Linked DNA regions of Homo sapiens: region 2 is linked to region 1. Evidence: fine-mapped expression QTL. Tissue or cell type: whole blood. Region 1 holds a variant in brackets; the other region holds the start of a gene. All regions are shown on one strand. Distances are between the middles of the regions.

Region 1 (5,367 bases):
CATGAACCCTCCACCTTGGCCATCAGCTTCCACCTGTCACAAATCCACATCTCTTCTGTTCTCTGACCTTTTGCTCACAATGTCCCCCTGCCTGTGCTGTCCTCATCCCTACATTCTACTTTTCCAAATCCTACTCTTTGCTCAAAGCTCAGCTGGAGTCCTCCCTCATCCCTGGACCCAGCCAGCGCCTAGCATCCCTCCCTCTTTTGGACTCCAATCACATGGCTGTTCCACACCAGGATTAGTGCTCTGTGGGCAGGTACCATGTCTGAGTTAAGCTCCATAGGGCAGGGAGTTGGTTTCATGCTTTGTTTATTATTCCTAGCACCTGGAATAGTACCTAGCACATGACAGGCACTCCACAAACATAGAATCAATGAATAAATCAGTGTCTCTCCTAAAATGTCCAGGAAAGTACCCTGGCACAGAGACAGAACTCATTAATGATTCTTGAACAAATGGATAAACTCATGAATCAGTGTCCTCTCATTGGGCACTGGTCACATTATTGCATTCTATTTTTTTTCGCTTTGTATTTGTGTGTGCTTCCTCCCTAACCTGCCTGTTAGCTTTTCAACAGCCAGGACTGAAGCAAGGAGGATACCTGGGTTCCATTTCTCCCTGCTATATGGAATTATTAGGCATCAGGCTGTATATCTTGCACTCAGTAGGCCCTTGGTTGATACTGGCTACACTAAAGGAAGGGCAGACCGCGTCTAGTCCAGACCTGGCCCCATGGGCATGTCCTAAACCAAAGCAGCAGCAGGAAGTCCAGTCCTTCCCCAGGGCAGCCTAGCAGCAGAGGAGGCTCGGGCCAGCAGAGGGAGGAGGCGCAGACAGTGAGAGAACACTTCCCCTCCAGCAGAGCAGTCCTGCAAGGGCTGCCATGCCCACCTTGCAGAGCCGGTGTGAGGACCGAGTCCACACACAAGAACACACCTTGCCTGGTGCCTGACATGGGGTAGGGGTCTCAGTATAAATATTAGCTTCTTACTTTCCTTCCTGTTTCACTGCTCCCAGCAAGGACAAGACGGGCATCCTGTGTTTCCTTTTCCTGTTGTGTTTCCTAGCACTGTGCCCAGCCAGCATCCAGAGCTGCCTCTCTTACCCCGGCTCCTCGCCCCTCCCTGGAGCCGCCACCTCCTGGCTCTCTGGCAGATCAGCCAGCGACCCTGCTTCTCTAACCCCTCAGCTTCTCGCGTTCTTACAGCCTTTCCACCCCTCATCTTCCACTCCCTACCATGGACTCCCCCGGGTTTGACTCTTACCTGCGCCAGTGGGGCTGCAGTAGTGGGCACCCGGGCTCACCTGGGTCCCATCTGTAGAGAGAGAGACGGAGTGAAAGAGCTGCAGGGAGGGGTGAGGAGAGGGAGCAGGAAGGAAAGAAGGTCAAGCCAGGCCTGCTCCCTGCCACTCCAAGCTTGAGCACGCCAAAGCCTGGGACCTCCACCAGAAGCTAATCAAAACGAGAAGACCCCACCCCATTCGACTCCTCCAGTCCCCCTGCTGGTGAAAAGGGCTCCCAGCTCCCTCTTCCTCAAGTCACTCATTCTAAATGACTTGAACTCAGACTACAGCAAGAACCTAAGGAGGCCTCAGCTCACCCAGCAGTGCCCTCAGCCCTCCCTCCTGTGGTCAGATACAATCTTCCCTGGGCAGCCAAACCAGGCTCCCATCGCCCGAGGGAAAGAAGAAGGCCAAGAGGTGAGGTGGGGCCAGAGGTGGGAGAGCCTGGCTGGGGGGATGGCTGGGGGGACAGGAGGAGAAAGGGAGGAGCAGGCCTGGAGAGAGGGACCCTGGCCTGCTCAGAGCCTCCCAGGTGGGAGTGAAAGGAGCAGGAGGGGACACAGAGGTTTCCAGAGTGGGGGAGGGACTGGGTCATGGCCCGGAGGTCAAGTCAGATCTGGTGGGAACTGTGAAGTGATAAGGTCAGGAGTGCACAGCCCAAGGACCCCATAGTGCAGACCCTTTTCCTCCCACTGCCCCATCCTATGTCCTGCTGCCTGTTTCCTCAGAGAAGGGACCTACTCAGCCTCTTTCCCAGATAATCTGAGATAGAAATCTTTTCTTTTGGAAATGGCTACCTCTCTCAGGCTCCTAAGCCCAGCAAGAAAACCTATAGTAGGGCCCAAGCTGGTCAGCAGCAGAAAGCCCCCAGGGGACATGGAGGCCAGCTGGGGTTGGAGAAGACAGAGATGAGTCCTGAGGCCACCTGTCCAGGACAGACACCTTTCCCTCTTGCTGTCCAGTTCAGGGTCAAGGGGACAGGAGGCCAGGAGACCCAGAGGCTGCCTGGACGGGGTACTGGGTGGACACAGAAGCGCTCTGCTGGCCAGACTTGGGGCAGAAGGGATATTTTTTGAGAAACTGCCGGGGTGCTCCTTTGGGTCTGTGTCTCAGAGGCAGCCACAGTTCCTCTTCAGAGCCGAGAAATGAGAACTTCCTGCAGGCAGGCGCTGCTGGGGGAG[G/A]GGGCAGCCTGGGCACAGGGAGACTCCCACCGACTGCCCCTCAAACCAGCCCATGCTTTGGGTAACAAAGTTCGGTCCGAAAATGCTGCTCTACCTATTTAAATTCTGCCCATCCTCTGAGGTCCAGCCCAAGTCCATCTCCTTGGGAGGCTCTCCCTGACCTCTCCCCTCTTCCTTTTCCACAGCACTCGCTCTGTGTCTACCACCTTGACACTTCATTCATCATGATCTCTGTGGTGCCCTGTGGAAGCCATGCCCATCTGCACCAAACACCTCGCAGGGCACGTGGCAGGCTCTGTTAGTAGCTGACAAATCAAATACAATGACTCTCTCCTGACAACCTGCCTGAGACACAGCATGCATATTTCTCAAGGTGGTGGGCCTCAGAGGCAAACTCCCCTCCCCACGACATGGTAACCCCCAATCCCAGGCCTTCTTAGTACCTCTTCTTTCTTCTGCAGGACCTGGTCCTCCCAGAGGTTTCTGGACTGGGCTCCAGGGTGCACTCCCAGAGACTGTGTCAGGCTGAGTCCCCTGCCTCCTGGGAATTCTGTCCCACCTCCCCAGTCCCTACCCAGGGGCTGGTCAGCAGCATTCATGCTTGGGAGCAGAGCCAGGTTCTCTGTGCCTTGCTCCCCTGGTAACCACAGATTCCGGACACCATGCACTCTCTGGATAGGAGAAAAATTAATGACCCTGAATTCTGTGGTGTGGGCTACCAGGCCCCAAAGGGATGTTTTGTGGTGATAATCCATAATATAAGGTCTGTCCAGAAAAGCTGTGTGCATGTGTGCATGCGTGTTGGCAACGGGGCTGCTTCCAATAGCAATTCCTGGAAAAAGTTCTGCTTTTCCCCCGCTCCCTGGCCCCGTGCTGAGGGCCATCAAGTTCAGAAGAGCGCAGAGCGACAGAGATTAAGACCCAGGAACAGCTCTCTTTGTGTCCTAGAGAGAGGAAAGGTATCTACTGGCACCCCGTCAGTAGCTGAACTGAAGCCAGAGCATGAACATCCTGCCTCCCAGTTCTGGCTTGAGTGTGGGACCTCTTTTCCCATCACTGCCTCTCTCCGAGGGCTGTTACTACTAATTTGGGGTCAGCCTGAAAAAAAAAAAAAAAAGAGAAGTAAATGGACCCAAGGTACCAGGAATACTGTCTAGCACAGGGCTCTTTGCCAGGTTGGAGAGCTCTTCTTTTTGGAATCCTGGCTACTCCCCTTTTCTATCTTCTTTGGAGGCAACTGCAGTCAGACTTAAGAACAGTTTACTTGGCACTGGGGCATGTGGGCCTACCAAGTCACCTTCTTAAACCAGAACACCTGATTTTACCCAGAAACCTATGGAGCCCCTGTTCCAATAGGTGCACCCCAGCCCTCAGCAACCTCCAGAGTAAACACAAACACAATTCTAAGCACCTGGAACAAACTGACCTCCCTACTGCTCCTACCTTATTGCCTCAGGCCCCAGTCTTGGTCCTCCCTCCCCAGCAGGTATGACTTTGCCTCCTAGATCTGCAAAAGGTGGATGAAAACCTGAGCCTTGCCGACCACCTGCTCTCCCAGGAGCTTCATGTCTTCAGTGGGACAAAAGGCTTCCCCAGGAGCACTGCCACCTAGAACGCCCCCCTCCCGATGCCTCCAGTGTCTTTTCTTAATTTTTTTTTTTTTTTGAGGTACGGTCTTGTTCTGATGCCCAGGCTGGAGTGCAGTGATGTGAACATGGCTCACTGCAGCGTTGACCTCCTGGGCTCAGGCAATTCTCCTGCCTCAGCCTCCAGAGTAGCTGGGACTACAGTATGCACCACGATGCCTGGCTAAATTTTTTTTGTTTTGTTTTGTTGTTTTTTTTTTTGTAGAGACGAAGTCTTCCCCTGTTGCCCAGGCTGGGCTCCTGGGCTCAAGCGATCCTCCCCGCTCATCTTCAAAGTCTTTGTTGAGGCTGTTCCCACCTCCCTGGACTCTTGATTAGCGGAAAAGGAAGCAGCAGCAAGAAGACCTAGGCCCCAGCAGCAAGAGGAAAGCAGGCAGTGGCAGAAGGCCATAGTCCTGGGTTCAGAGCTGACTCCCTTCACACCCGAGGTTGCTGTCTCTGGTTCTCCTTCCCTGACATAGGCTGGAAAAAGCTTGAGTCTCCATGGGGCTGGCAGAGAAGATGAAGGCTGGTGGTGAAATGGCTTCAGGAAGATCCAAGAACAAATAAACAGGAGAAAGAACACTGTGGTTGCCAGGCCTCCCTGACACAGAGTGGGGGCTGAGCACAGAGGATCTGCTCCTCTTCCAGGCTTTAGAGATCGTTCAGACCAACACTCTCATTTGACAGAGGAGCAAAGAGAAAGAAGGGGCTAGGTCACAGCCACCCAGCCAGCCAGTGGTCCAGCCAGGCCAGGCCAGACCAGTACAGGGGAAACCCAAAGGTCAACCCCAAATGCAGGTACTACTTCCCTGGGAAGTCACTGATCTAGGGGTTGAAAAGATGGAAATATGAGTGAAACCTGGTTCTCACTTTCAAGGAGTTTAGAATACAGCCTGCAGCCTTAAACATATTTGAACAAGTACAATACTTGCAGATACTAAAAAAAATTCAGAGAGCCCAAAAGTTGTTAGGATAAGTTTCTCATTCATCCCAGACTCCCTAGAACTTCCCTGGAAGCCGCCCTTTCTAACAGCTTCTTGTGTCTCCCTTCCAGAAATTCTCTATACTGCTCATTGATTGGCACTGAATGCTTCTTGCTCAGATTTATCCAGAACCCAGCAGGGAGCTGAGAGTGGGCTGGAAGCCCCTGCCACATGAAGTCTGGCAGGCCACAAACTGTGAGGGAATTGAAGGTCTAAAGCACACAGGACATTGGCTTTGCGGTCAGATGGGCCTGGGTTTAAGCCCCGACTCCCTCGGTGACTGGCAAA
Region 2 (5,367 bases), 31 kb before region 1:
AATGAATTCTCCCCTGACCTTTAGGTTCAGATAGCTGAAATAGCTCTTGAAGCAGTTTCGTCTCTTCCATTCTCTCTGCTTCTGCCTGGACCAGCTCTGAAGCCCCTCATCCTCTCTTGCCATGGCAGCCTTCTGCTGCTACTAATTCTACTTCCTGACATTTATTGAGTATCTACCATGTGCTAGGCACTCTTCCAGGCACTCCTCATCACAACACTTTGAAGTAGGTGTTACTGCAGTCTCCATTTTAAAGACCTGGTAATTAAAGCACTGTGGGGTGAAATTTGTCCAACTCATCTCTCTGCTTCTAGTGTTTCACAGGCAGTTCGCCTTCACTCTATTACTCTGGCCATAGTTCTAAAACACAGAATTGTGAGTTTTCTCCCCCAGCCCCAAGGGGAGGGGGACAGCCTTCTTAACAGAGCATGCAAGGCCCTTTATGTTCAGAACCTTTCTAATCTCCAAACCCGCTACTCTACCTTCAAACTTGACATTCCAGCCACAAACGACTTACAGTTTCCCAAAGCGGCCGCTTTATTTCTTCCCTCTGCGCCATCACACGTGCGGTTCCCACTGCCTGGAGTACTGTCCATCCTGGCCAGCTCTGAAGCCATCCATGGAAATGCACTCCGGACCACGGGGCTTGCTCCCTCCTCCACAGGACCAGCACTCACTCTCCACCGGCAGCTCCTAAAGGAGGGCTGCTGCTGAGCTCACAGCCTTGACATCACTTCTCATTAAAATACACACTCCAAGATTCAAAATTTAATAGGCAGGGGTGGGGCTGGGTTTATTTTTTTATTTTTAAAGAAGCTCCCAGATTATTCTAGAGTGAGGCAAATGTGCTTAACACTGGTTTACATCCCTTGTTTGGCAGTTAAGCACACCCTGTCTAGATTCCTTGTGTATAATTGCTTTTGTTTTTATTTTATTCTTACCTTCATTCACTCACACTCACCTATTCAACAAACATTTATTAAGGGGTCATTATATGCCAGACATGCTTTTAGATGTTGATGTGAACAAAACTGGCACTGTCCCTGCTCATGAAGTTTATGTTCCAGAGGGGGTGTGGTGGGTGGGATAATAATGGCCCCCAAAGATGTCCACGTCCTCATCCCAGAACCTATGAATATGTCACCTTCCACGGCAAAGGGATTTATTTTGCTGATGTGATAAAATTAAGGATCTTGCGATGGGGAGATTATCCTGGACTATCCCCTCAATCACAGGGGTCCTTAGAAGGGAAAAGGAGGAAGAGGGAGTTAAGGCATGTGGGTAGCCTCACTCTAGAAGCTGGAAAAGGCGGCCGGGCACGGTGGGCTCACACCTGTAATCCCAGCACTTTGGGAGGCTGAGGTGGGCGGATCACCTGAGGTCAGGAGTTCGAGACCAGCCTGGCCAACATGGTGAAACCCCATCTTTACTAAAAATACAAAAATTAGCTGGGTGTGGTGGTGGAAGCGTGTAATCCCAACTTCTCGGGAGGCTGATGCAGGAGAATCACCTGAACCCAGGAGGCAGAGATTGCAGTGAGCTGAGATCACGCCACTGCACTCTAGCCTGGGTGACAGAGCAAGACTCCGTCTCAAAAAAAAAAAAAAAGTCAAGGAAACTGATTTTCCCCTAGAGCCTCCAGAAACAAGGCAACCCTGATGTCCCCTTGATTTTAGCCCAGTGAGACCATTATTTGGATTCCTGACCTACAGAACTGTAAAATAATAATAAGTTTGTGTTATTTTAAATCAGTAAATTTGTGGTAATTTGTTACGGCAGCACACACACAAAAAAAACTAATGCAAGGGGTATTGGTTATGTTTTGTGCAGGTATATGATGGGCCTCCCCATGTGGATCCTTAGTGCTGTGGCAGAGCCCTTGTTATTGTGCTGGGATTTTCCCTCCAGCTCCCGGCCGGAAGCTGGGCTCACGTGGGAGCTCAGTGCCCTCCTGCTACAGATCTGTCTCTTCCTTACAATGGTATGATCCCGAGGGTCAGGGTGAGGGGTTTGGGAGGATAAGGCTTGTGCTGATAAAAGGAAAGGTGAGGTCCGTTGCAGTGGCTCAAGCCTGTAATTCCAGCGCTTTGGGAGGCCGAGGTGGGAAGACAGCTTGAGGCCAGGAGTTGGGGACCAGCCTGGGCAATATAGCGAGACCCTATCTCTACAAAAAATAAATAACAAAAAATACTAGCCAGGCGTGGTGGCACACACCTGTAGTCCTGGCTGCTTGGAAGGCTGAGGTGAGAGCATTGCTTGAATCCAGGTGTTGGAGGATGCGGAGCTATGATGGCGCCACTGTACTCCTGCCCGGGCAACAGAGTGAGACTCTGTTTAAAAAAAAAAAAGTAGGGATTTGTGGGGAGCTGTGCGTGAGGATAGAATGTATAGAATGTTTGCAGTCAGAAGGTGATGGTCGCAGGGGTTCCCAGACTTTAGTGTGTGGAGAAATCCTCTGCGATATGGTGGGAGGGAACCTGGTTGATAGAAGGACGGGCGGAAGGAATTCTATTCACAGCGTACTCTAATATTTCTTAAGTTTTACCTATTAATTTTTAACAAGAAATTTTAATTTTAATTTTAAACGAAAATACGCATCGTACTCAGAGGTAAAGATTTTTAATCCTCGCGGTTCGCTCGTATAAAGGCATATTTCCGGTCCCTTCCAAGGTCCAACAATCCGGACACGGCGGGTCTGGGGATGGGCCCAGGAATCCGCCTTTTTAGCAGCATTCCCCCAAACGACACGGCAGCTTCGCAAAGCGGCGGTGGCGTCTGCGGTTCCGGGCGCGGGCGGCCTCCGGCCGGGGAGGGCGCTGTGCGGGCGGCGCTGGGGGCGGGCCGGGGGCGGAGCGCGGGGCGCCGGCTGCTCTGGCGGCTCCCGCGGCTCCGGCTGGCGGCTTCGGGCCCTGCACCTGTGACTCTCGGCCGCGCTCGCCCTCGGCCCGCCCGGCGCCGCAGCCCCATGGCCCCGTCCAGGCTGCAGCTCGGCCTCCGCGCCGCCTACTCCGGCATCAGCTCCGTGGCCGGCTTCTCCATCTTCCTCGTCTGGACGGTGGTCTACCGACAGCCGGGGACCGCGGCCATGGGAGGGCTCGCAGGTACCCCGGGACGCTGGGCGGCGCGGGGCGGGTGCGCGGCTGCGGGGCGGGCGCCGTCAGCTGCTCCAGGACGCTCCCCGCGAGCGGCGCTTCCCCGCGGAGCGGGTGGAGTGTTTACTCGAAAACAGCGGTTGGCGGCGGCAGGCCCCACGCGGGCCCGGGCTCCTGGGCATTCCTGGGTGCCTCTGAGACCCGATGCCCGCCCGGGCGCCACCTGGGGGTGCCGACGGCCCGCCACTGCCGGCTGCACAGACCTGCCGCGCCGCCCGGGTTATCTGTCACGGCACACTGCCTGTCGCCCTCCGCCCAGTTGCCCCACGACAGTGTCCCCTCCGCGCGCCCGCGGCGCTGGTCGCCTCCTATCCCCAAACACACACACACACACACACGCACACACACACGGTTGTTCTGAGGGATCCCCTGCCCCCCAGGCGCCCCTTCCCTGGGTGCTGGGTGAGGGCAGAGAGGGAAGAAGTGGGAAAGGAAGAGGGCTAGGGGTGGCTGGGGAAGCCCATCTCCCTCCTTCCAGAGGGCTCCCCCGCAGAGCCCTCTGCTGAGACCCACAGGGAGGACGGCGTTAGGGATCTCATAGAAACTGGACATTCTCTTTCCACCCATGTTGGTGCCTTTTTGCTACCCGTCTGCTGTGGCTCCTCAGCCAAGCTCTGCCAAATCCTGCAGGCCAGCCGCCCTTTCTGTGCTTCTGGGAGGGAAGGGGAAGCATCGGTGCGCTGATGGGGGCTCTGGGCTGACCAGTGCTCCTTGTTGTGCACATTTGGGCTCGCAGTTTAACCTCTCTGCGCCATAGAATTGGTATGAAGATGAAAAATATTATCTCTACTTTCTAACATTTTAAAAAATGCTTTCTATGTGTCAGGCACTATGTTAAGCAACCTGCTTCCCTTATTTCATTTAATCCTTACATTAGTCTCATGAAGTAGGCCTTACGATTATGTCCATTTTACAGATAAGGAAACTGAGGCCTGAAGTTAAATAAATTGCTTACCCGGGATTACACAGCTACATGAAATAATATGTGTGGGAAAGGACTTTGGGAAGAAAATACGTATAATACTTTTACATATGATGATTATATTCCATTACTAAAATCCTCGGCCAAAAGAACCCTAAATGGAATAACTAAAAATAACTAATTTACTCACTGCCACAGGGAGTGCTGAGTGCCATCCCTGGGTAGAGTCGCAGCATGAGGTGGGGTTAATGCCTTAGAAGAGGGGCATACAGGGCCCCACCCTACACAATGCCAACAAAGCACTGGGTCACCAAGAAGGGGGGATGGGCACCCTGGCTAGGGTGTTCTCTGCCTGCCCAGCTGCCTCACCACCTGTGGGATCCTGAGGACAACTGGCCCATCTCTGCGCGTTATCTACAGAGCCCTAGTTCCTTTCCCCACTGCACCCCGCCACCCTCCATGTTTGTCAAGGTTCACTTCTCCCTGCCACTTTTTTGTTTCCTATTGGCCCTGTTGCTTTCCCCTCTGGAAGGCGGCGTCAGAGCCCTATGATTGCATTGCGAAGACCGAAGGCAAGAGAAGGATGAGCAGGGAGGGCCAGCCTGGGATCTCAGCTGGTTGTGTTGAGTCTGGCCTGGTACAAGTGGAGGTGAACCCTACCTGGCCGTTTGACCCTATCCTGGGCCACAGTTTCCTCATCTATTAGGAGTGGGAGGAGATGTCCCCAAAAGACATCTGACTTCCCTCCAGATCTGAAATCTTGCAGTGCTGCCCACTCCCTGAGTCTCCAGCTGCCTCCTAGAGGGCTGTGGAAAAGGCCTTCTTTCTTATACTCTAGGGAGTTGCCTGGGGTTTTCTTCCGACCCAACTCTGCCCTCTCTCCCTCCCCACAGGCTTCCCTTGGCCTATGAGGCAGGCCAGCTGTGGAGCTGCCTTCAGAGAGAGGCGCTAGGGCAGCAGCTCGCTAGGGCAGCAGCTCGCTAGGGCAGCAGCCAGCTGGAGTAGGGTCCTGGTATCTCCCTGATGGTCTGATCTTTGACAGTGGCTGTGGAAGAGCCAAAACTGCTTGGTAGTGGTGGTGGTGGATGGTGGCAGGGAGAGGGGTTGCCAAGCCTGGGCCTCCGACCTTCCCCACCATGAGTGAGTTCTCAGAGGGTCTGTGGCCAGTCAACCTTCTTCCTCTTTTGGGGGTAAAGTGTCAGCAGATTAACTAACGTGTGAGCACCCTACTTCTGACTCAGCGTTTTATAGCTCAGAATCTGCTGAGTCACCCAAGGGTAGCCCCAGCATGCTCCT

The links. PIP is the estimated chance that this variant, and not a neighbour inherited with it, causes the effect.
Region 2: it holds the start of SLC48A1, and the variant in region 1 is the best candidate, but not a certain one, in a credible set for the expression of SLC48A1 in whole blood (TOPMed, PIP 0.65).

What each region holds. Positions count from the first base shown.
Region 1 is chr12:47,800,956-47,806,322 of GRCh38, forward strand. HDAC7 (histone deacetylase 7) reads right to left here. Exons shown (of 26, transcript NM_015401.5): 2 at 1,269-1,319. LOC124902926 (a long non-coding RNA gene) reads left to right here and starts at 125. Exons shown (of 2, transcript XR_007063290.1): 1 at 125-1,704; 2 at 4,320-4,678. The variant G/A (reference allele first, on the strand shown) is at 2,469.
Region 2 is chr12:47,770,343-47,775,709 of GRCh38, forward strand. SLC48A1 (solute carrier family 48 member 1) reads left to right here and starts at 2,896. Exons shown (of 3, transcript NM_017842.3): 1 at 2,896-3,098. The coding sequence starts at 2,963. RefSeq lists a silencer at 2,762-3,371 and enhancers at 3,117-3,623, 3,624-4,128.